Linked DNA regions of Homo sapiens. The protein of the gene in region 5 purifies or fractionates together with the protein of the main gene of each other region. This does not show direct contact. Each region holds a gene or a part of one and is shown on either strand. Other genes may lie near its edges.

Region 1 (3,500 bases), on a different chromosome or scaffold from region 5:
ACTAAGGGGAAAGCACTGCTTCATTACAGCACTTTCAGCACGCAGCGCTAGATTTAGCAATCATTTCTTTCAACATGTATTGAAGGCATACTGGAGGCCAAGCACTAGTGGAGGAATGCAGAGGTGTAGAAGAGACAGAAAATGCAAAATTAAGCAAATAAGGTAAAATTCCTGTCCTGAGAAAGCTTCTAAGTTGTGGGAGATAGGTATGCAAATTAATATTTTGCTATGTTAAGTGCTTGAGTGTTCCATGAAGCAATTAATACAAACTGGGAATAAAAGGGAATAAATCAGGCCACCTACACAATTCAACAGTTTCCAGGAAGATCCAAGTTAAAAGGACACCCAAAGAATTGGACCACACACAGTAGGGCCCCCATACGAAATTTATTTCCCTTGTGGAACACTTAGTCTCTCAGACAAGCAAGCAAACCAAATTGGGGTACCCCTAAAATATGCAGAAATCCAAAGTATTTCCCACATGAGAACAACCCAATCTATAAATGAGTCTCCCAAAAGGCACAAAAACGGATGGTCCCTGCAGATCAGCATCGCAACAGCATAAGTAACAGATGGCTCAACTTGAGCACCCGTAAGAGAGATGAATGAGGTGGCTTTTCATCTCCCACATCCGACAATCTCCAGTTCTCTAGTTCAACAAAATAACATCAAACTCTCAAAGTTTCAGATTATGTCATGCAAAACAGAACCTGGGAGATTTAATAAAGTAATAACATTTGCTTAAAAATATAAATTTAGTTATATTACTTTACATATCCAGGAACTGATGAGAAATAAAACCATCTCAATTACCAAATTTCATCCTTATATACTCATATGGATCTTCTTGCCACAGCTCTTCATCCTCATCTTTATAACACATCACAGAAAAAATCACATCTTCAGAGATATTCTAAAATGAGAAAAAAAAAAAAACGTAACAAATGGGTATAGGCTATTCAAGTTTGAGGAATACTAATAATGTACTTGTTGACAGCCTTTATGATGTTAGTTTTCCAAACTCTGTGTGTGTGTAAAATGTCAAGTCGAGGTTATATTTACTATTATAGTTCTTATTTTGAAATTTTTTTTAACATTTCCATTTTAGTCCTAAATGTCCATGTATTAACAATATTAAAGGGCCAGGCATGGTGACTCATGTCTGTAATCCTACCTCTTTGGAAGCCCAAGGGCAGAAGGATCGCTTGAGGACAGGAGTTCAAGACCAGCCTGGGCACTGTAGCGAGACCCCATCTCCAAAAAAATACATAAAAACGTAGCCAAGCATGGTGGCGTCCATCTTGGAGGGTCTCTTGAGCCTAGGAGCTCAGGGCTGCAGTGAGCCATGATCATGCCACTGCAGTCCAGCCTGTGCAACAGAGTGAGACTCCAGCTCCAAAAAAAAAAAATTGGAATTTTCTTTACTTCTATTCCCAAAAAAACTAATTTCCTACTCCACAAATGTTTCAGTTAGAGAAAAGTCCTATCTACTAGCCTCTCTGTGCACTGCTACTAATGTCCTATTAAGCCCTTTTAGGCTCTAACAACAATTTATATAAAAACAGGATCATCTCTTACCACTTAATTCCAAATTAAATAATTCTAAGTGAAAAAATTCAGCCTAAGGATCAGCGTTTTCTTATTCCTACTTTACAGCTATGTAAAAATAAAGCCAAAGGTATGAAGTAGAGAAGAAATGTTATCACAACTCACCCTTACTTTACAGGAACACAGCAAATGAAATCAGTATCTTTATTAATTAATTGCAAAGAAATTATCACTATTTGATCAAAGTGATTAGGCAAATAGTTATTAAGATATCTACATAAATCAAAGAAAAGATATCTGTTGGTAAGACGGGTAATAACACTAAAATTCTATCCTGGACAGCAAACAGCAAAGTGAAAGATTTTTCTTTTCAGATATCATTTATAAAATTTAAGAATTCACAGTTTGGGAGAGAGTAGGTATTCAGTTCCTAAGACTGTCAAATTATCCAATTATTTGTATACAAGGAAGTATTTATTTATTAGTGGCCTATAATTTTCCATTCCCATTTGTTCTTTAGCTAAATAACAATACTGAATTCTACCTTTAGGCAAACGATATAGAAACAATGATGCTATTGAACTTAACAATCCAAGAAAATAAATAAAAACCTTGCTCATACCTACAAAATAAAACGGTCACATATCAGTCTTCAATTCCTGCAAAATAACACTACCTTAGTAGAGCCCTGGTAAGTTTTCAAAATACTTTCTCACAAAATACCTCATTTAATCCTAGCAACTTTTAGATAAGAATAGAAAAACACTATGTGCCTTAATAGAGGAGAAAATGAGGCTTAATGAGATTAAGCAAGATCAAGTGAATCCAGGTCTCCCGACTCATAAAACTTGAAGGCTTCACTTTTCTCAAATGCTTAAATTTCTAAGCCCTTTATATCTGACATAGGACTTCACTCATTAGAAATTATTAATGGTAAAATGTATATATATAAAATGTAAAATATAGGATTAGTAATACTAACTTTGTCTAGAAAACCTAATTTAACCAGAGAATAATTTTGGAGAGCTGCTCTCTGACACTAACCTGTATGTGTGGCTTCATCTGCTTCCAGGTTATAGAATGAACCACCCCTTGGTTGAGATAGTTGAATGCTTGCTGAAGAACACGGGGAGCTACATATTCTTTCTGTCTATATTGATCTAAAATTTTTAGTAGCACCTATAAGAAAACAGAAAATACAGACTAACATAAACAATTATAAGGTTAAAAGGGGGAGGTGCCATTTTTGGCATGACCTAAAATTCAGAATCCATAGAAAAATAAACAGATTTGGGAGAAAAATCAATGTTTTGTAAGAAAGCTCAGATAAACAGCTTTAATTATTAGATAGGTCCATGTTATATTGAACTAAACGGTGTCTCATTGTAACTTCCAGGCAAAGTCTAAATTTCTATTCCACTGCTAGCTCTTCAAAGTAAGTTAAAACTCCTGTTTAAAAAATTACAATAACAGGAGCCGGGCACGGTGGCTCAAGCCTGTAATCCCAGCACTTTGGGAGGCCGAGGCGGGCGGATCACGAGGTCAGGAGAACGAGAGCATCCTGGCTAACACGGTGAAACCCCGTCTCTACTGAAAACACAAAAAAATTAGCCGGGCGTGGTGGCGGGTGCCTGTAGTCCCAGCTACTGGGGAGGCTGAGGCAGGAGAATGGCATGAACCCCGGAGGCGGAGCTTGCAGTGAGCCGAGATCGCGCCACTGCACTCCAGCCCTGGGTGATAGAGCGAGACTCTGCCTCAAAAAAAAAAAAAAAAAAAAAAAAAAATTACAATAACAGATCTGACTAAAGAAACATTAAAAACTTCCATACAACAAGAGACAGCACAAAGATGTTTCTTTATTTCATAAAGACTTCTTCAAATTAGAAGAGAAAAGTTGTTCAAAAAATAGTATTGGCATAACTGATTAGCCCCCTGAAAAAATTTAAATTAAC
Region 2 (3,500 bases), on a different chromosome or scaffold from region 5:
TAGGTTAAGACCTGAGTCTGCTCTGGCACAAGCACAGAAATGTTTTGCATTGGTAGGTACTACTTTCTTTTGTATTTTCCTAAACATCACTTTTATTTTCCAGCGTCAACAAAAATGAGTATCTCATTGTCTACAAAGTCGTCTTTTTCTTTCTTTCCCAAAGGATAACTACTGAGGAAAAAAGGTGCTGATTGATACCTAGCTCTTGTATTTCTCTGGACATTTGTTTGGGTTCATCTTGATAGATGTTTGTCCCTGATTTTATACTTCCCTAAACAGAACTGGTCTCCCTGCTTCATCATAAATCAATATAAAGAGCAAAAACATTTTGAGGAAACACTCTGTAAACATGACACCATGTAACTTGCTCTCTCACCCCTGCTTCATAGAACTGTTTCTTAATATTCAGAAACACAAAGCTCAAAAGGTTGTTTTTTTTTTTTTTTTAAGTAAAAATTTTTCTAGTAAAATAAGATACTTCCAGTTAGCTGTATGGCTGGAGTCGTAAAAGAATTTTCAGTTTAAAGGAAGAAATTATGTCACAAATATATATTATAAATGAAAATGACAAAAATTTTACTAGATTTAAAATTCATTTATTGCAAAGTTCACTTCTTACAAATTAGTATGCCCTCTTCTACAGTATTGAACATCTTGAAATTGTATAGTGGCCATGGAGTCCTAGTTGTACATAACCTTTGGCTCTCTGCTGCTGAGATACCTACTTGGAACCCTTTTGGATGCTGCAGATTATGTTAGCAAATCACCTGTTTTTTTGGAAATATTTATGTAATTTTGTGTGTTTATGTTAACATTCCATGAGTTTTTGAGTTCTTGATTTGACAGGCCTGTTTTGATTTTTTATAGTACCGCCAGGCATATACGGGAAACAACTCTTCACAAATCCAAGCAGCTATGAAAGGTTTTGAAGAGGTCATAAAGAAATTTCCAAGGTGTGCCGAAGGCTATGCACTATACGCCCAGGTAAATGTTTTTTCAGGTTTTTTAAAAATAACTGCATACATATGCCAAATCTCAGTATGGAAATCAGAAAACAGTGCTATCATGGTTGCAGCTTCTTTGGAAGCAGGTGGCTTTGTTCCTGATTGATTCTCATGGCCCCTGGTTGGTCCCGAATCACCTCAGAAGAGGCTCCTTTGTTACACAATTTGGAAATCATGGCCCTAAACTCAATATGGGGAAGCTTAAGGCGAGAATTTCCCTCCTGTCTTCATTTGGATTGGTTTTGCAAAAAGTAATTACCTTAGGAAAATTTACCGTATGCAATTGGTGGAGAAAATATCCACGGAAAGGCTTTTCTTTCTATCTGGTCACTGCCTTTTTATATGGCTAGGTTGTTGTAACGGTTTATTTTAATTTATCTTTGCTTTATCTAAAATTCCTGAAACTCTCTTGGTTTAGGATTGAAGCTATGGAAAGCAGGATTTAAATCTGAATTTTTTTATTGTAGTCTGAAATTCTTGAAAACTTCTTAGTTTTAAATCATCCATTTAAATGAAAATGATTAGCTTCTTGTAGTGACGGTCATACATTTTCCCCTCAAATAAAAGATCTCTGAATGACTCAGTTTTCTTTCTTAAAGCTGAAAATTGGTTTTGGTGTCTACATAAACTAGCCATCTCAATACTCTATATCAGGGGTACAGCTGCTTTGTGGCCTCTTAGGAATGGGGCTGCACAGCAGGTGAGCCTTGGGCAAGCATCACCACCTGAGCTCCACCTCCTGTCACTGTCAAATCTGCAGCAGCATTAGATTCTCATGCCTGATGATCTGAGGTGGAACAGTTTCATCCCAAAACCATCCCTCCTCCTCCTACCCCCATCCATGCAAAAATTGTCTTCCACAAAACCAATCCGTGGTGCCAAAAGTGCTGGGAAGGTGTTGGGGACTGCTGCTCTATGTAATTTATTTTTCTTTTTTTTTCTCTTTTTAATTACAAAAGACATGTTGGGTTTTTCCCCACAGCACAGAAATAGGAAACGATAACAAATTACTATCCCCTGGCTGGGTGTGGTGGCTCCTGCCTGCAATCCCAGCACTTTGGGAGGCTGAGGCAGGCGGATCACTTGAGCCAGGAGTTTTGAGACTAGCCTGGCCAGCATGGAGAAACCCCATCTCTACTAAAAATACAAAAATTAGCTGGGTGTGGTTTGGCGCACACCTGTTATCCCAGCAACTCGGGAGGCTGAGGTAGGAGAATCGCTTGAACCCAGGAGGCGGAGGTTGCAGTGAGCTGAGATCACACTACCACACTCCAGCCTGGGCAAGAGTGAGACTCCATTTCCAAAAAAAAAAAAAAAAAAAAAAAATACCATCGCTGGTTGACCCCTCTCCTTAAACCATTCTTAAGGATGCTTATTTTGTTTTTAATTTCCTTCATGGTATCTGTAGGCAGGTTATAAGAACAATTTCACAAGGATTTTAAGGGTTTATTGAGGGTGGAACTATGAGAAAATTGATTTGTGTTGGATCTGTTCTTTAGAGGTAGGTCTTATATATAACTACATTAAAGTGTACATTTTAATCCTATGAATGGGTACACTTGAGTTTATGCCTTATAATTAGTAACAAACCAGGAAATGACAGCAACATCCTCATCATTGTCATGGAATTCAGAAGGGCTTTTTTGGTGCAGATTTCTCTAAGCATCTAGAAGAGCAAAGGCCACCGAATAGGAACCACTACTGGGGAACAACTCCTCTGCAGAACTTTCCCAATAGCATATTTCCCTATTACCATTCTGCCTTCAAGATAGGTTTGGTTTGTATGAGCTGTCTTCTCATCAGCATTAGCATTATTACAGTCAGTTTGCACTCAAATTTCTTTTCTTTGGTCTGTTTTCTAATTTTAGCTTCACTATATAGTATATGTAACTTTATATATGCATACAGTACGTGTGTGTGTATGTGTATGTGTATATATATATACTTAGTGTAACTTTTTTGGCCCTCAAAGCTTTGGCGTAGATGCTGGCCAACTCGCAAAGTTACAGCTTGAGCATAGTCTGATATCCACAGAACTGTGCCTTCCATTTCAGCCGTGGGATTTGTCTTAAAAAGTTGATTATAGCTGCTGCTTTTGTTTTCAAAATAAGTATTTATTACATTATTGTTAACTATGACAAACAATTGGGGAAAATCCTAAATGTTAACAGAAAATTGAATTATGTTTGCAGAATTGTGGTACACTCACTTAATGGTATATTATGCAGCCATTAAAAGTTACAAATACATTAAAGTTACAAAGCAAGATACAGCACTGCCTATTATTAAAGGGAGAATTGCATACAAAATGAACTCAACCATGTGAAAGAAAACAAATAGGGAAGTAAATAGAGATAGAAAAATATATCAGGAAGGCATCCATGCTCACAATGATGGAAGCTATAAAAATATTTCTACTTTCTATATCTTTCTGATTTTTATTATAAAGAAGATGTGCTGGCTACATTTCTTTGATATTTTTAAGAGCGATTTTTA
Region 3 (3,500 bases), on a different chromosome or scaffold from region 5:
AGTGCTTTGCTTTCTTTCTTTTTTTTTTTTGAAGACAGAGTCTTACTCTGTTGCCCAGGCTGGAGTGCAGTGGCGCGATCTTGGCTCACTGCAGCCTCTGCCTCCCGGATTCAAGTGATCCTCGTGCCTCAGCCTTCCAAGTAGCTGGGATTACAGGTGCGTGCTATCATGCCCGGCTAATGCATTTGAGTTTTGACTCTTCATGTCCTGGTATTCAAATTTGCCAGGCAATGCATTTTAAAGTAAGGATTTGAATTAAATACTGAAGACCCTCTGAAGTTACATTAAAAATGTTAGCCTTCAGATCAGACAGTATTCTTAGGTATGTTGCTTCTAACTGTTTGGAATCAAAATATACCCCTCCACCCAAAATCTGACTCCTTTCAGATATCTCAGGATAACCTGACAATTCAGTTTTTGTTTTCCACTAAAAAGCTCAATGCTGCTGTGTGTTCTTTAGGTTCATATGGAGTCTTGAGTCAAATCAAACACTCCCCCAAAACATGCAATAAAAGCAGGTTTTCCTGTTGGACACTTCTATCAAAAGTTATATAATGTCTATACCAGTGTTGTCCAATAGAAGGTTCTGTGATAATGAAAATGTTGTATATCTGCATTATCCAATATGGTAGCTACTAGCTACATGTGCCTAGTAGAAGCGATGAACTGAATTTTATTTCATTTTAATTAACTTACATTTAACCACACATGGCTACAGTCTACCATATCTGACAGCACAGGTCTACACTGAGGTTCAGGTGCTCAGAGACAGTGAACAAAAGCAAGATTATTTGTCACTCTTCTTGTTGACACGCTCTCAGCAAGCTAGTTGGACCATGTGAGGCCAGGAAGGTGGGCAAACAAGGATAGCATCACCAAGCATTTCTTTGTGAACTAATTCCGCCACGGCCAAGACAATGTCCCACCATCCTTTGTGGAATAAGCATCTAAGAAGAAAATTTGCTTTCATTTGCAAAGATGCTGAAGAGAAAATGTTTTATCCACTGGCTGAATGAAAAGACTCTGGCTTGTAAATAACAAGGGTTTCATTTAGCAATTCTTTCAATTCTTCATCACATAAATATTAAGGGCCAACTGTGTGCCAGGCAAATTCTATGTACTGAGAATACAGCAGCAAACAAGGTAGACAAAATACTGGGTGTCATGGAGCTCACATTCTAGTAGACGAGTCAAAATTACTTCAGATAATAATAAATGCTATGAAGGAAACAAAATAGGGTAGTATAAAGGCTCTGTAACTCCAAAGTAATGTTTATACTAAACCAAGAAGATTAAAAAAAAAATCAGGAATTTGCAAGCATGAAACTTCTATCTTTAAAAATATTCACTGGAGGGAATGTATAGGGGTCAAGGTAGAATAAATGTGGTTTTGGGGAAAGAATATTTGTTAAGCTGGGAAGAGCTAAGTCTGCCTGGGGTGATCCTTAGACTCAAATAAGGTATTTCAATGAGCAAGGCAGGAGGTAGAAACAAGAATAGATTAAAATTACACAACAGACTTCTACTTGCAGAGGTTCCAGATAGTTTGAATTAGGTTTGCATTTACATTCACACTTGGGTGGCAGGAGTATGAAATGTGTGAATCAAAGACCTCGAGTCACAGAAATAAATATGTCACCTAATAAATCACTTATTTAGCAGGGGGATAAAATGTAATAAATAATAGGAAATCCCGGAGTTGTATTTAGCAGACTAAATATTGTGATCAATCTGTGCATTTATTTTATATGCTGCTTTAATGACTATGATCTGGTTCTTTGTTTTGTTTTATTTTGTTTTGTTTTGAGATGGAGTCTCGCTCCGTTGCCCAGGCTGGAGTGCAGTGGCGCGATCTTACCATAACCTCTGCCTACCGGGTTCAGGTGATTCTCCTGAATCAGCCTCCTGAGTAGCTGGGATTACAGGTATGCGCCACCATGCCCAGCTAATATTTTTGTAATTCTATGCATTCATTTTAAAGTTATTGCTGGCAAAAACAGTATTTCAAAATGCATCTGGTGTGCACGTGTTTATAAACCATACTTCATTATCACTGCAACTGTAAAACTGTAAACTGTTATATTTCAAAATTCTTCCAGATTTCTAGTCAGAAGAGATATCAATCAATCTCATAAATAAACCAGACGTATATTTCCAATGACCTCAAAAGATGCCCAAACTCCATAGGTACACAGTAAACCTTATCACAACACTATTCATTGAGATAGAGCTGAACTGTCCATTTTGGGGCCCTCTCTAAGGGAGCTACAATTATATTACCATTTTGACTGTTTAAATGCACAAAAGGGTCAGGAATGGGCACTAATTTACAACTAGATTATTGGTAAAAACGGAATTTTACGTTATGAACATTTTTCTCTGTATAACTTGCTATCTGTATAACCTGCTTTCTGTATAACTTGCTATCACTAATTTCAGAACCAGGGAGAGAATAAAGAGTTGTTTCTCCACAACAATAAAGTCAGTCTACACCAGTAGACAGAGATAAGAATACAGGCAGAATGTAACACAAGGTACTTTGATGACAATATTCCTCAGAACTCCTTGTTCTTTGCTTCTCCTTTATTCACTTTTTTGAGGGGAGGAAGGACAGTTCCATTAACTTTTTTTAAAATCACTTAAAAAAGTTGATACATAACAGATGTACTTATTCACTTTTACTTGCTGTTCTTGGAATTTTCCACGGACATTAAATATTATAACTTTTAGTACCAAACTGAAGTTTGCATTTACAATTGTGAAGCTGGTACTCCCCACCAAAATCAGGCCATACTTGTTGGCTTGCACTGAAAATCCACAAGCAGTTCCCATAAATCTTTTGATGATGATATTTTTCAATGGTTTCCCATACCAAGTAGCTGCTGCTTGGGGCGCAGTATGGTTATTAAACAGTCTTATCTGTGATACACTTTAAAACAATACTGGGCTAAACAAAGGGAAGGGAAATCAAAAGACTTAAGTAGCTTCTTGGCTCCATCTTCCTTTACTACTCGCTGCACAAACACGTAGGAGGTGACAAGACAAAGATGAGGCGAGGCAAGCTCCAGGCTCCCTTGAGAGAAAAAAAGCCTATCAGCATTTCTATCAGTAAGCACACCACTTCCTACCTCAAAATCCATAGGATGAAACATATTCTTGATGATGACAACTCGCTCATGGCGCATCCGGGATGGTCCGGCTCGCCTCTCAGGTCTCCAATCCAACTGCCTGAGGCAATGAAGCAGTAACAACAAACTGTAAATTTTGCTTCAGACTTGTTGGAGAGAGAAAAGAATGAGTTGTTCATACAATACTTTACTGAGTATTTAATAAAGATAATTACTGGATTTTACAACAACAAACTGTATTTCAGTCATAGTTCCAGTCAGAAAACTTTCTGAAATAAAAATAATGGGCAGGGGGCCGTGTGCGGTGGCTCATACCTATAATCCCAGCACTTTGGGAGGCCGAGGCGGGCGGATCACTTGAGGCCAGGAGTT
Region 4 (3,500 bases), on a different chromosome or scaffold from region 5:
TAAAACAGCACTTTTACCTTCATCCAACTGCAGCTCTGCATCCTCTCCCCAGCCCTCTGTACCAACAGTGTCAATGTCAATGTCAGCAGCCAGTGCTCCTCCCTTCCCTACAGAGGGAAGGAACAGAACGGAACTGGTTATAGTCCAGCAAGTCTGAGATACGGCCTTTTCTGTAGGCAGGTTAAATCCTTTCAAAAACAGGTGCCAAGCTTCTGCCTACTTACTATTTATTTTTGTGTATTATTTATTTTTGTGGTATATATGTTATGCTAACTTGCAGTAGCTTTCACAGAGGGAGGGAATAGAAGACAGATGGAAGGAACTGGCCTTCCTGCTACCAAAAACTGGCTCTTAAATAATTTGTACTTACCAGCCTTTGGCTACCAACTCTTGAATTTCTTCCTGAGCGCTTTGCTAAGCTACCACCACTACAATGTGTACAGGGCATCAGGCATAGGGTAGATAGAGGAGGTGGAGAAAAGAGTGGGGTTTGGCACAAAATGCTCAAGAGTCTGTTTAGGCTCTTACTCACGGGAAATGAACTAGGAGACCCAGAAAACAGGAGGAGGTTAAGGGTGGAAGTGGTGGAGGGTGATAGCACACATCTGCCTATACCCACATACCGGAATTACAGGTAGTTGAATTAGTACCTTTAAGATTGTATGTCATGAATGATAAAATACTGAACAAAGAACATGACTACATATATAGTAAAACCTAAGAAAATACACCAAAATATTAACCGAAGTTATTGATGGTAGTAGAGGGATCCCTTTTTTTCTCCCTATTTTCCAAATTTTCTTTAATGACCTGAAAATGCTATCTTAAGTTTTTAAGACTGCACCATAAATGACTGGCATTTCAATATTCCATTAGGCTCCATGCAGAAAAAAAGGACAAGTTAAACTAAATGCTAATGGTATTCTCTAGGACAGTTCTTCACAAAACAAACAACAAAAGTGCTATGGGAGAAATAGGTACTTACCTTTGCTGGCAATGGTGCCTTCAAAAAATCCTTTGGATACAGTCAATAAAGGCCAATTGGTATCCAATGGCATGATAGGTGCAGGTGGCTGGAGCAGCTTGGCATTAGGGTCAATGTCTGGGATCTGAATAGTAGAAGAAAAGAGGCTAAAAACAAATAGCACTTGGAAGTCACGTAAGGAAAGTTATGGAGCCTCCTTTGATCTCATTTGTTTCTCTGCCTCTCCTGGTAACCAGGTGGGAGAGTGACATTCATAATTTTAAATTGTTCTAAGATCCTAGAGTTAATCCTGTAATAAGAGACAATTATGTAAATAAAGACTCACTGTCTCCTTCTCTGGGTCAAATGTCTCCTTTAGGCTCTCAGCTTCTTCATCTAAGCCATGGGTAGCAGCTGTGAGATAGGCCAGGGACTCTGTAGAGAAAACAGACTTTGTGGTATAGGTACATTTCCAAATGCATGCTGCTGTGGTAAGCAACCTCTGAAATGGCCCCCCAGTAATCCCTGACTCCTGGTATTCAAGTTGTTGCAAAATACCCACCTCTTAAGTGTGGGCTGGATTTATTAAATAGCTTCTAATGGATGGAACATGGCAGATGTGATGGGATGTTACTTCCTAGATCTGGTTACAAAGATTGTGGCTTCTATCTTGGGGTGCCCTCTTTTGCTCACTTGCTGTAAGGGAAACTAGCTACCACGTTACAAACTCCTATGGAGAGGTCAACACGAAAAGAAAGTGATGTTTCTTAGACAACAGGGAGCAAGGACATGGGGGCTGCCAATGGCCATTGAGTGAGTGCAGAAGTAGATTCTCTCCCCGGTGAGTCTTCAGATATCTGCAGTTCTGGCCAACACTTTGACTGTAGCCTCATGAGAGATCCTAAGCCGGAGGCACCTAGCTAAGCCATGCCACAAATTGTGAAATAATAAATGTTTGTGGTTTTAAACTACTAAATTTGGGGATAATTTGTTACACAGAAATAGAGAACTAATATAGCTGCTTATCTTTGAGACGTATCCATCCGTGCTGAGAACCTTGGATATCCCTGACTCCTCTCTGTTACATCTCAAATCTAGTTACCGCAATAAATCATGTTGTTTCTACCTTAAAATATATCCTGAATCTGACCACTGCTCACCCCTCCACTAATAGCGCCTTGGTCCAAACCTCATCTTTCACCTTGCTTGTTTCCTAATGTATCTTAAATGCTAATATAATGCTTGGTATATAGTGGGTTCTCAAAAAATATCCCTTGACTATATACATGAATAAATGAGTGAAACCTCCAAACTGAAAATAAAGAATAAAATTCTAATGGCATCCAACCAAGTGCATTTACTAGGGCGTCCACTCAAGACCTTTTAAAACCTCCTATCTCCCCCATGAATAACTATTCTCCTAAGGGTGTTTGGCTGGACTGAATATTCTGGCTGCACCTCCCTTTGGCTTTGAAGAAAATCTTCTAAGCACAGTAGGAGCATGTTGTCTCTCCTAAAAAAATGCACAATAAAGAGAAATCCCTCACCACTATACACAGATTAACTCAACAAAAACAGAAAAATACTTCCTCAGACCCTGAAAAAGCTGGCAAGTCTCGGATACTTACTCTGTCCACAGTTCTTCAGGATCCGCACACGCTCTGACACATCACCCAGGTATAGGGCATTCTGATAGTGGCCACTCATGTCCTTTCTGATCTCAGCTGCACCAAGTAAGAGACACCAAGTTAGGTCTTTTCTCTTAAGTTCTCTTTCTCCTTAATTCACCTTCCTCCTTCCCCCAAGAACCCCTCTTCCCATCCTTAGTTTGAGGGCCTCACCAATCTTCATCATCTTGCGAAGTTTTTCTAAGTTGCCAGTGATAAGATACAGGAAGGAAAGTTTGTCAAAGTTTTTGGTACGCTGATAGCACATTTCCACAATCTGGTGGTTCCCCTGCAGCAGGGCCACTTCTCCCAGCTTTTCCCAGCAGTTCTTGTCATCCAGTGCTTTGGCTGCTTCCAGAGCAATCTAAAGAATCCCCAGGGTCGTGTTAACAGGTTGAAGGACAATGTGACTCAAAACCAAGGACTCTGCAAAGCATCTGCATCTATATAGATTTCCTGAAGAACTTCCTATACTTTCAATTACTCCTAGCTTTTAGTCTAATTCCATTGAAAATCGGCTGGGTGCGGTGGCTCACATCTGTAATCCCAGCACTTTGGGAGGCCAAGGCAGGCGGATCCCGAGGTCAAGAGCTCGAGACCATCCTGGCCAACATGGTGAAACCCTGTCTCTACTAAAAATACAAAAAAAATTAGCTGGGAATCATGGTGCACGCCTGTAGTCCCACCTACTCGGGAAGCTGAGGCAGGAGAATCGCTTGGACCCAGGAGGCGGAGGTTGCAGTGAGCCGAGATCATGCCATTGCACTCCAGCCTGGGCAACAAGAGCGAGACTCCGCCTCAAAAAAAAGAAAAAAAAAAAAAGAAAATCCAGTGAACACATAGGACCCCTTTGGATACAGAGATGGAAA
Region 5 (2,357 bases):
AAATTAGCCAGGTGTGGTGGCACCAGCCTGTAGTCCCAGCTACTTGGGGGGCTGAGGTGGGAGGACTTCCTGAGCCCAGGAGATGGAGGCTGCAGTGAGCCCTGATCACACAACTGTACTCCCTCCAGGGCAGCAGAACAAGATGAGACCCCGTCTTAAAAAAAAAAAAAAAAAAAAAAAAAAAAGCTTCCTGGAGGAGGTTGGATAGGAGTTGACCAGGCAAATACTACAGGCAATGGTATCCCTGGGAGAGGTGACAGATGGTTCTGATCCTAAGCTGGGGATGACGGGAGCCAAGGATGGTGGGAGGCTGACGGGCCGACAGGGGCCAGGGTCCCAAGGGCTGAGGGTGCTGAGGGTGGCTGAGAGTATGCCACAGGTTCTGGCAGAGGACAGGATCCCCATGGCAAAGAGGGGGTCTTCTGAAGCCACCCGGGAAGGAGGTGAGGCTGTGAATGCGGGGCTGGCTGTGCAGAGCTCCAGCCCCTTCAGAAAAGATGTCATTTTCAAAAGGGCTTTTATTAAATTCTCCCCACACGATGGCTCCTGCAATCTGCCACAGCTCTGGGGCGTGTCCTGTAGGGAAAGGCCCTGTTTTCCCTGAGGCGGGGCTGGGCTTGTCCATGGGTCCGCGGAGCTGGCCGTGCTTGGCGCCCTGGCGTGTGTCTAGCTGCTTCTTGCCGGGCACAGAGCTGCGGGGTCTGGGGGCACCGGGAGCTAAGAGCAGGCTCTGGTGCAGGGGTGGAGGCCTGTCTCTTAACCGACACCCTGAGGTGCTCCTGAGATGCTGGGTCCACCCTGAGTGGCACGGGGAGCAGCTGTGGCCGGTGCTCCTTCCTAGGCCAGTCCTGGGGAAACTAAGCTCGGGCCCTTCTTTGCAAAGACCGAGGATGGGGTGGGTGTGGGGGACTCATGGGGAATGGCCTGAGGAGCTACGTGTGAAGAGGGCGCCGGTTTGTTGGCTGCAGCGGCCTGGAGCGCCTCTCTCCTGAGCCTCAGTTTCCCTTTCCGTCTAATGAAGAACATGCCGTCTCGGTGTCTCAGGGCTATTAGGACTTGCCCTCAGGAAGTGGCCTTGGACGAGCGTCATGTTATTTTCACAACTGTCCTGCGACGTTGGCCTGGGCACGTCATGGAATGGCCCATGTCCCTCTGCTGCGTGGACGTCGCGGTCGGGAGTGCGCAGCCAGAGGCGGGGCCAGACGTGCGCCTGGGGGTGAGGGGAGGCGCCCCGGGAGGGCCTCACAGGAAGTTGGGCTCCCGCACCACCAGGCAGGGCGGGCTCCCGCCGCCGCCGCCGCCACCACCGTCCAGGGGCCGGTAGACAAAGTGGAAGTCGCGCTTGGGCTCGCTGCGCAGCAGGTAGCCCTTGATGCAGTGCGGCAGCGCGTCGTCCGCCAGCTGGAAGCAGCGCCCGTCCACCAGCACGAACAGCCGGTGCGCCTGCGGCCGCTCCACCGCGAACTTCTCCGCGCACTGCGCGCACAGCGCCTGGGCCTGGGTGTCCGCCCGCGACGCCAGCGTCCGCGCCTGCTGCTCGGGCTCCAGGTACGACACGCAGATGAAGTCCTGCGGAGACGCGAGGGGCCTGTGGTCACGGCGGGGCCCTGTCTCCTCAGGCGCCCTCTCCCGGCCCAGGCCCCTCCCTGGATGGATAGCGGGTGGCGGGCGCCAAGCTGTCTGCGAGTCCGGCACCTGCGCCTTTCCCGTCTCTGCCGCGAGCCTGCGGGGGGCCCGTCCCCCTCCCTGCCTGGCTTCCCAGCTGGGCCGACAGTTCTGGGAGATGAATTAAGGCGCGTCTCGGAGTCCCTGCAAAGAGGAGCCGGCGCGTCCCCTGGCTGCTGGTCCACAGGCTCCCCATCATTCATTCATTCATTCATTCCCTCCCTCCCTCCCTCCAGGTGAGTTCCCTGCACCCCAGGCGCAATGCTGGGCACGGAGGGCAGCACAGATAAGAAGGGAGGTGCGAGCCCGCCCGGGCATCCCATAGTGCGGGCGGGCAACACAGTCCAGCCCCTTAGGGCTGCAAGAGCCCTGGGGCTCTGAGGAGCTGCGTGGGGCAGGGATTGGTAAAGCGGGAGGGGACCGGGTGAAGGAGGCTGGGCGCAGTCGGGTGGGGAAGGCCCGGCATGAGCAGGGCGGGCAAGGCGAGGCGACGCCTGCGGGCTGGGGCTGGGCACTCGCAGCACGAGCAGGGCGCCCGCCCGCCGTCCTCCACCCCTAGGGACCCAGCCCCACACCTGCCGGGCTTTGCCTTTGCTCCCACTGCCTGTGTGGCCTTGATTCGTCGAGCCCCGGCTGTAAAGTGGGGATAGCGCCCGCCTCCCATAAATGGGCGAGCAGGCGCTGGAAGCTCC
Region 6 (2,279 bases), on a different chromosome or scaffold from region 5:
CGCTTGAACCCAGGAGGCAGAGGTTGCAGTGAGCCAAAATTGCATCACTGCACTCCAGCCTGGTGACAAAGTGAGACTCTGTCTCAAATTAAAAAAAAAAGAAAGAAAGAAAAGAAAAGAAAATTAGCCGGGTGTGGTGGTGTGCACCTGTAATCCCAGCTACTCAGGAGGCTGAGGCAGGGGAATTGCTTGAACCAGGGAGGTGGAGGTTGCAGTGAGCCAAGATTGTGCCATGGTACTCCAGCCTGGGCAACAGGAGACTGTGTCTCAAAAAAAAAAAAAAATTAGTTGGGCATGGCACACGCCTATAGTCCCAGCTGCTTGGGAAATTGAGGCAGGAGAATCGCTTGAACCTGGAAGGCAGAGGTTGCAGTGAGCTGAGATTGCCCCATTCTACTCCAGCCTGGGTGACAGAGTGAGACTTCGTCTCTCAAAAAAATAAAATAAAATAAAATAAAATAAATAAAATTTAAAAATGAAAAAAATCAAACCAAATAAAATTAATCAACCAACACCCATTCTATTTAAGGTTCCAAAAGGAAGTAGCTGGACCCGGCTGCAGAGCACACTCCCACCTTGCTTCTGTCCCAAAAGTACATCCCCTACGTGTGGTTCTCCTTAAACAATTTTAATGTCTGGGTTGGGGAAGCAGGTAGAGCGCGTAGAGGCAGCTGCTAGAGGCTGGTTGCTGACTCCAGGCCGCGTTCCAGGAAATATCGGTGGGAAGAACGGGGACGGGCTTGGGACCCTTCATTGAGGAAGTAGGATGTGATCTTCCTGAGTCCCTCCTGATTCTCGGATGCTGAGTCCTCCCTGTGGGAGAGAGGTGATGACAGTGACCACTTACACAGGGAGCAACCCTCTCAGGCAGGGCTGAACGCTGGCCTCCCTCCTTCCTTCCCTATAGCACCCCCAGGACATCCATGACACCCACCATATAACATCTTCCGCCTCTTTCTCCAGGATGGTCTGGGCCGTGCGCCAGCTGAACCGGACAAACTGGGGGAAGCCGAACACAGGCTCCACGTGCTCCTTCAACCACGCTTTTGTCTTGGGATCTGGGGTAGGGTGGGCAATGGTGACAGTCCAAGTTGCACCATAACATTCAAGCTCCCTGCCACTCTTTTTTTTTTCTTTGAGATGGAGTCCCACTCTGTAGCCAGGCTGGAGTGCAGTGGCGCGATCTCAGCTCACTGCAACCTCCACCTCCCGGATTCAAGCGATTCTCCTGCCTCAGCCTCCCAAGTAGCTGGGACTACAGGCGCATGCCACCATGCCCAGCTAAATTTTGTGTTTTTAGTAGTGACGAGGTTTCACCATGTTGGCCAGGATGGTCTCAATTGCTTGACCTCGTGATCTACCCCCCTCGGCCTCCCAAAGTGCTGGGATTACAGGCATGAGCCACCACGCCCGGCCTCCTTGCCGCTCTTCTAAGGCTTCCTCCTGAGTACCTGGGGCACCTCCTATGGTCTGAAGCACCTTCTTGCCACAGGACCTTTACCTGGCCAAGAGCTGCTAAAAGGGCAGTGCAGGGAGACTGCCTCTGAGACATCTCCTTGACCTCCAAGAACAAGTCATTAAACATTTTTATTTTATTTACTTATTTTTTGAAATGGAGTCTTGCTCTGTCACCCAGGCTGTAGTGCAATGGTGCGATCTCGGCTCACTGCAACCTCCGCCTCCCAGGTTCAAGCGATTCTCCTGCCTCAGCCTCCCAAGTAGCTGGGACTACAGCCACCCACCACCATACCTGGCTAATTTTTGTATTTTTAGTAGAGACGGGGTTTCACCATATTGGACAGGCAGGCTGGTCTCAAACTCCTGACCTCAGGTGATCCACCCACCTCAGCCTCCCAAAGTGCTGGGATTACAGGTGTAAACACCACACCCAGCCTTTTTATTTTTTTGAGATAGGGTCTCGCTCTATTACCCAGGCTGGAGTGCAGTGACATTATCACAGCTCAATGCAACCTCTGCCTCCCAGGCTCAAGCCATCCTCTCACCTCAGCCTCCCAAGTAGCTGGGACTACAGGTGCGCACCACCACACCTAATTTTTGTATTTTTTGTAGAGATGGGGTCTTGTCATATTGCCCAGGCTGGTTGTGAATTCCTGAGTTCACATGATCTACCTGCCTCTGTCTCTTAAAATGCTAGGATTACGGGCATGAGCCACCTGGCCCAGCCTGTCATTAAATATTATTATTATTATTATTATTATTATTTTGAGATGGAATTTTGCTCATTTCCCAGGCTGGAGTGCAATTATGCGATCTCGGCT
Region 7 (3,500 bases), on a different chromosome or scaffold from region 5:
TGATTCTGCGGAGAGTTTTGTGTCTTCTGGTACAGCTAGGCCTTTGGCTTGTCTCCTCCACTTAGCAGCCCTTTCATGTGATTACACAACAAAAGTTGAGAGAGTGAAGCCTGTGTGCCAGCATAGGAATTAGGTGCTGGAGATCACACTGAAGGCACATGGTTCCTGCCTTCCCTGATGCCATCTGTGCCATCTGTGTTACTGCAGCCATGGTGGAGTCTTTTCAGTAGCAAACTCTAGAACTTTTCTGCCTGGAGAGTCCACATTCATTGCTCTTAAAATTTGAGAGCAGCCTCTCTTTCTAGATGGTAGACTTGAGTTCTCTACAGGATAGCCTTTTAGACTAAGAGAACCAGATCTTTCTTGACCCTTCATATTTTGAAAGCTGCTAGTCCTACTCTTAAGTCTCATTCTCATTTTCCCATTTTGGAGTTCCAGCTCTGTCCCTCACAAGCAGTGTAAGTGTCAGCAAGTGAGTTAACATCTTTGGGCCTTAGTTTATTTGTGAAATAGGGATGACTATGATTCCCACCTCATGAGTTAGGAGGATTAAATGAGATCATTCCTATTAGCACAGTATCTGCCACGTAGTAAACAATAAATGGAATAAAACGATTGCATTTTCCACATGTCTTGGAGAGCACTGGAGGCCAGCTCCTCTTCACCCTTTGCCCAGACTTGAGCATCTCAGAGAGAGGAGCCACCTTTCATTGTATTCATCTCTGTGTCTACAGCCAGCCCCTGCCTGGTGAATAGTAGATGCTTAATAGTATTGATTTATGACCTGAAGATGGTGATGGTGATGATGATGTAACCTGTCTGCCAGGATTAAGGAGGGTAAAATAAGAAAATGTATGTGAAACTACACTTTTGTGAATGGAAAAACAACACTGTGTACGTCCCTCCACTAAGGTATTTATCACAGTGTACTGTTCTTTGTTTGCCTATCTTTTCCACTCATAGTCCATGTGCTTCTCCAAAGTGGAGACTACATCTTATCTCTAGTCCTGCTCCAGCCCCTGTCTGATAGCCTACACAAAGTAGGCACTCAGGTAGTTTAATTGAATGCAAATGGCATACAAAGGCAAAGAATTGTAAAGCTATTATTAGGATAGGGAAAGAGGGCTGGTAAATACGACTGGTCCTTCCTTCCTTCCTGGTGCTACTTTTACACAAAACTGTTTCTGAAATAAACCTCTTCCTAGGGGAATGATGAAATTGGCTGAGAGAAAAGGTCAGGGTCAGGAATAACAGTTTCATTATCTGAGCAACTGGACATAGAGGCTGGCACTTGGGCACATTGTCACAAATCTTTGTGTTGGGATTAATGCCACTAACCTGTAGTGTTGGGGTTCCATCTCTGATCATTATCAGCTAAAAATCTTCAAAATGTTTGTCATGCTTCAGGTGCCCTGGCTGCAGAGTTGTGCCAACTTGGTGCAGATTGGGGCACCTCTCCCACTACTGGGCTGTTTGGGCCAGTATTTTGAGGTTCTGGGAAGTATGGAAGTACTGGCTGGGCAATATGGGATGGTAAGAAGTACCTCAGTGAGGTCCTTGCTGCTCTAATTTCTCAGAGAGTCTTTTCTCAGAAGCTTCTCTTTTGCATCCTCAGTAGCTCAAGTGAATATGCCAGTGTGTAGGCTCATTGTTAATAACAGCTCCTCATGTTGTGGAGGAAGGGCCCCTGCAAAGTCACGTTTTGAGACTGGTGCTTGAAACCACCTCTTCTTGGTCTTGGGGAGAAGGCTTGGCTGATGAGCTAGCATTATCAGAGATATGTTTATAATAGGCCCAATTTGATGTGTCCTGAGCCTTGGGTGTAGGCACCCTGGGAATTTCAGGGGCCTACCCCCCTCCTTTTTTTTTTTTTTGCGTGGATCCGAGTCTGGCTTGTTCTTCCTCTCTGGGAGCATGGCACTGAGTTTCAGCACGTAGTTGGCCCCATTTCCCTATGGGTGAGGAAGCTAACATCAGGAAAGTTTGAATATTGAGCTACAGTATTTGCTGTTATTTGCTGCAATGCGGAAACCCAAAGGCCAAGTTTCCAGAGAGTCTGCTGGGGATGTTGACTTGGTGCTGGTCAGAGTGGAAGCTGAAGCACATACTATTTTATAATAAATACTAATGAAATCCTAGATCTATAATAGCATTTCGGATATCTAAAACAAACCATGTGCTTGTAAAAAAGTGGAAAGAGATCAACTTTAAGCCATAAATTCTTGGTAATAGAGGGTTTTTTTCTATTAATGTTTGATAGATATTTTTATTTCCAGAGGAATGTCAACTCCTAATTTCATAATGTATCATGGGCTTAAGAAAATTGAATTTAATAAAAAGCCAAAGATGAATGGCATCCTTAAAGGTCCCAACACTTGTCTTTATTAGCAGGACAAACTGTAGGTCTCCAAACACTGCTGCTCTCCAAATGAAAGTTTAAATGAAAAGTACAGTTGTGTCACAGGTTAAATTTCATTGTGGGCCCAGCTAACATTGTTAGTGAGGAGCTGGCTGTATTTGTTTCCTTAGACACCAGGGCAGCCATACTCACCAGGCTATAGAGCTCTTTCTGTTGAGGAAGTGTTTCTTCTACTTAGGGGAAGAGGAAGGACACATCGGAAAAATCAGGAGTCAGATGAGCCTGATTCATGGGCAACACCTCAGAGTTGGCTCTTGGAATCCTGGATACCTGATTTTGCAGGGGGACCAATGTGTATTTTTTTGGTGTGTGTTCGATTTTGTTATTCAGTTCCAAACCCCCATTTACTCTGTATGTAATGCTTCTTGGGGAACAGAAGGTCCAGGGAATTGGGAAATGAGTGTCCCCCTCTCTTCACCTTGGAAGGAGAGGTATTACCTGGTCTAAGCAGCAGTCTGGGCCTCCCTTCTCTCCCCTCTGCCTCAGCCTTGCAGCCATTTTGCCCTTTCTATCTCTGGGAATAAGCTCCTGTCAGCTTCCTCATCTTTGGAGATCAGCCCACGGAGACAAGGCAACCACAATCTTTGAATCTCTCTGGCATGAAGTCTGACTGACTTGATTTGGTTTTCGGTCCTGATGTGTTGGATTGAAATAGATGCTTTAAAAACAAGCCCAATATTAGTGGGTATGTTTTGCCGGGAGGATACCTGGCTTTCCTGGGACATCAAGGAGATTGACCATTTCTCCTTGTGTTTTCCCACCCATCAATTTCCTAAGTGCAGTCAGGTGTCATCCGTTTCGTGTTGCTTCTCCAGGCTGTCTCTGGAGAGAACCACTTTACCTTGATTTTAATGATACTGGAAAGGTCTTCTCCAGAATGAAGGACCTGGGGAAGGGGTGCTGCTGGAGCTGACTATTAGGGTCACTGAATAGGCAGAGCCCCCTTCCTTTCTCTCTGCAGTGGAGGCCCTTTCCACATGCTAATTTTACTCAGAGAATTTTGCTTTTATTTATTTTTTTTATTATTTCCTATTTGTCTCTTCCAGATGTTTTCAGGGCAGTTTTTTTTTGTGTTGTAAAC

What was found.
Region 1: the proteins of RIN3 (region 5) and IPO8 purify together in Homo sapiens (affinity purification with mass spectrometry; one large-scale study listed by BioGRID and IntAct). This does not show direct contact.
Region 2: the proteins of RIN3 (region 5) and TOMM70 purify together in Homo sapiens (affinity purification with mass spectrometry; one large-scale study listed by BioGRID and IntAct). This does not show direct contact.
Region 3: the proteins of RIN3 (region 5) and HTATSF1 purify together in Homo sapiens (affinity purification with mass spectrometry; one large-scale study listed by BioGRID and IntAct). This does not show direct contact.
Region 4: the proteins of RIN3 (region 5) and COPA purify together in Homo sapiens (affinity purification with mass spectrometry; one large-scale study listed by BioGRID and IntAct). This does not show direct contact.
Region 6: the proteins of RIN3 (region 5) and RNASEH2A purify together in Homo sapiens (affinity purification with mass spectrometry; one large-scale study listed by BioGRID and IntAct). This does not show direct contact.
Region 7: the proteins of RIN3 (region 5) and ERI3 purify together in Homo sapiens (affinity purification with mass spectrometry; one large-scale study listed by BioGRID and IntAct). This does not show direct contact.

The regions. Positions count from the first base shown.
Region 1 is NC_000012.12:30,668,370-30,671,869, forward strand, and holds part of IPO8 (importin-8), read right to left. Parts: intron 2,728-3,500; coding exon 2,593-2,727; intron 914-2,592; coding exon 814-913; intron 1-813. UniProt on the Homo sapiens protein: Involved in nuclear protein import, either by acting as autonomous nuclear transport receptor or as an adapter-like protein in association with the importin-beta subunit KPNB1.
Region 2 is NC_000003.12:100,370,090-100,373,589, reverse strand, and holds part of TOMM70 (mitochondrial import receptor subunit TOM70), read left to right. Parts: coding exon 1-52; intron 53-867; coding exon 868-984; intron 985-3,500. UniProt on the Homo sapiens protein: Acts as a receptor of the preprotein translocase complex of the outer mitochondrial membrane (TOM complex). Recognizes and mediates the translocation of mitochondrial preproteins from the cytosol into the mitochondria in a chaperone dependent manner.
Region 3 is NC_000023.11:136,504,092-136,507,591, reverse strand, and holds part of HTATSF1 (17S U2 SnRNP complex component HTATSF1), read right to left. Parts: intron 3,229-3,500; coding exon 3,129-3,228; intron 1-3,128. UniProt on the Homo sapiens protein: Component of the 17S U2 SnRNP complex of the spliceosome, a large ribonucleoprotein complex that removes introns from transcribed pre-mRNAs.
Region 4 is NC_000001.11:160,294,751-160,298,250, forward strand, and holds part of COPA (coatomer subunit alpha), read right to left. Parts: intron 2,996-3,500; coding exon 2,806-2,995; intron 2,689-2,805; coding exon 2,593-2,688; intron 1,400-2,592; coding exon 1,311-1,399; intron 1,110-1,310; coding exon 986-1,109; intron 108-985; coding exon 18-107; intron 1-17. UniProt on the Homo sapiens protein: The coatomer is a cytosolic protein complex that binds to dilysine motifs and reversibly associates with Golgi non-clathrin-coated vesicles, which further mediate biosynthetic protein transport from the ER, via the Golgi up to the trans Golgi network.
Region 5 is NC_000014.9:92,687,138-92,689,494, reverse strand, and holds the end of RIN3 (ras and Rab interactor 3), read right to left. Parts: intron 1,570-2,357; coding exon 1,243-1,569; 3' UTR 501-1,242; downstream 1-500. UniProt on the Homo sapiens protein: Ras effector protein that functions as a guanine nucleotide exchange (GEF) for RAB5B and RAB31, by exchanging bound GDP for free GTP. Required for normal RAB31 function.
Region 6 is NC_000019.10:12,811,862-12,814,140, reverse strand, and holds the end of RNASEH2A (ribonuclease H2 subunit A), read right to left. Parts: intron 1,059-2,279; coding exon 935-1,058; intron 814-934; coding exon 675-813; 3' UTR 501-674; downstream 1-500. UniProt on the Homo sapiens protein: Catalytic subunit of RNase HII, an endonuclease that specifically degrades the RNA of RNA:DNA hybrids. Participates in DNA replication, possibly by mediating the removal of lagging-strand Okazaki fragment RNA primers during DNA replication.
Region 7 is NC_000001.11:44,320,758-44,324,257, reverse strand, and holds part of ERI3 (ERI1 exoribonuclease 3), read left to right. Parts: intron 1-3,500.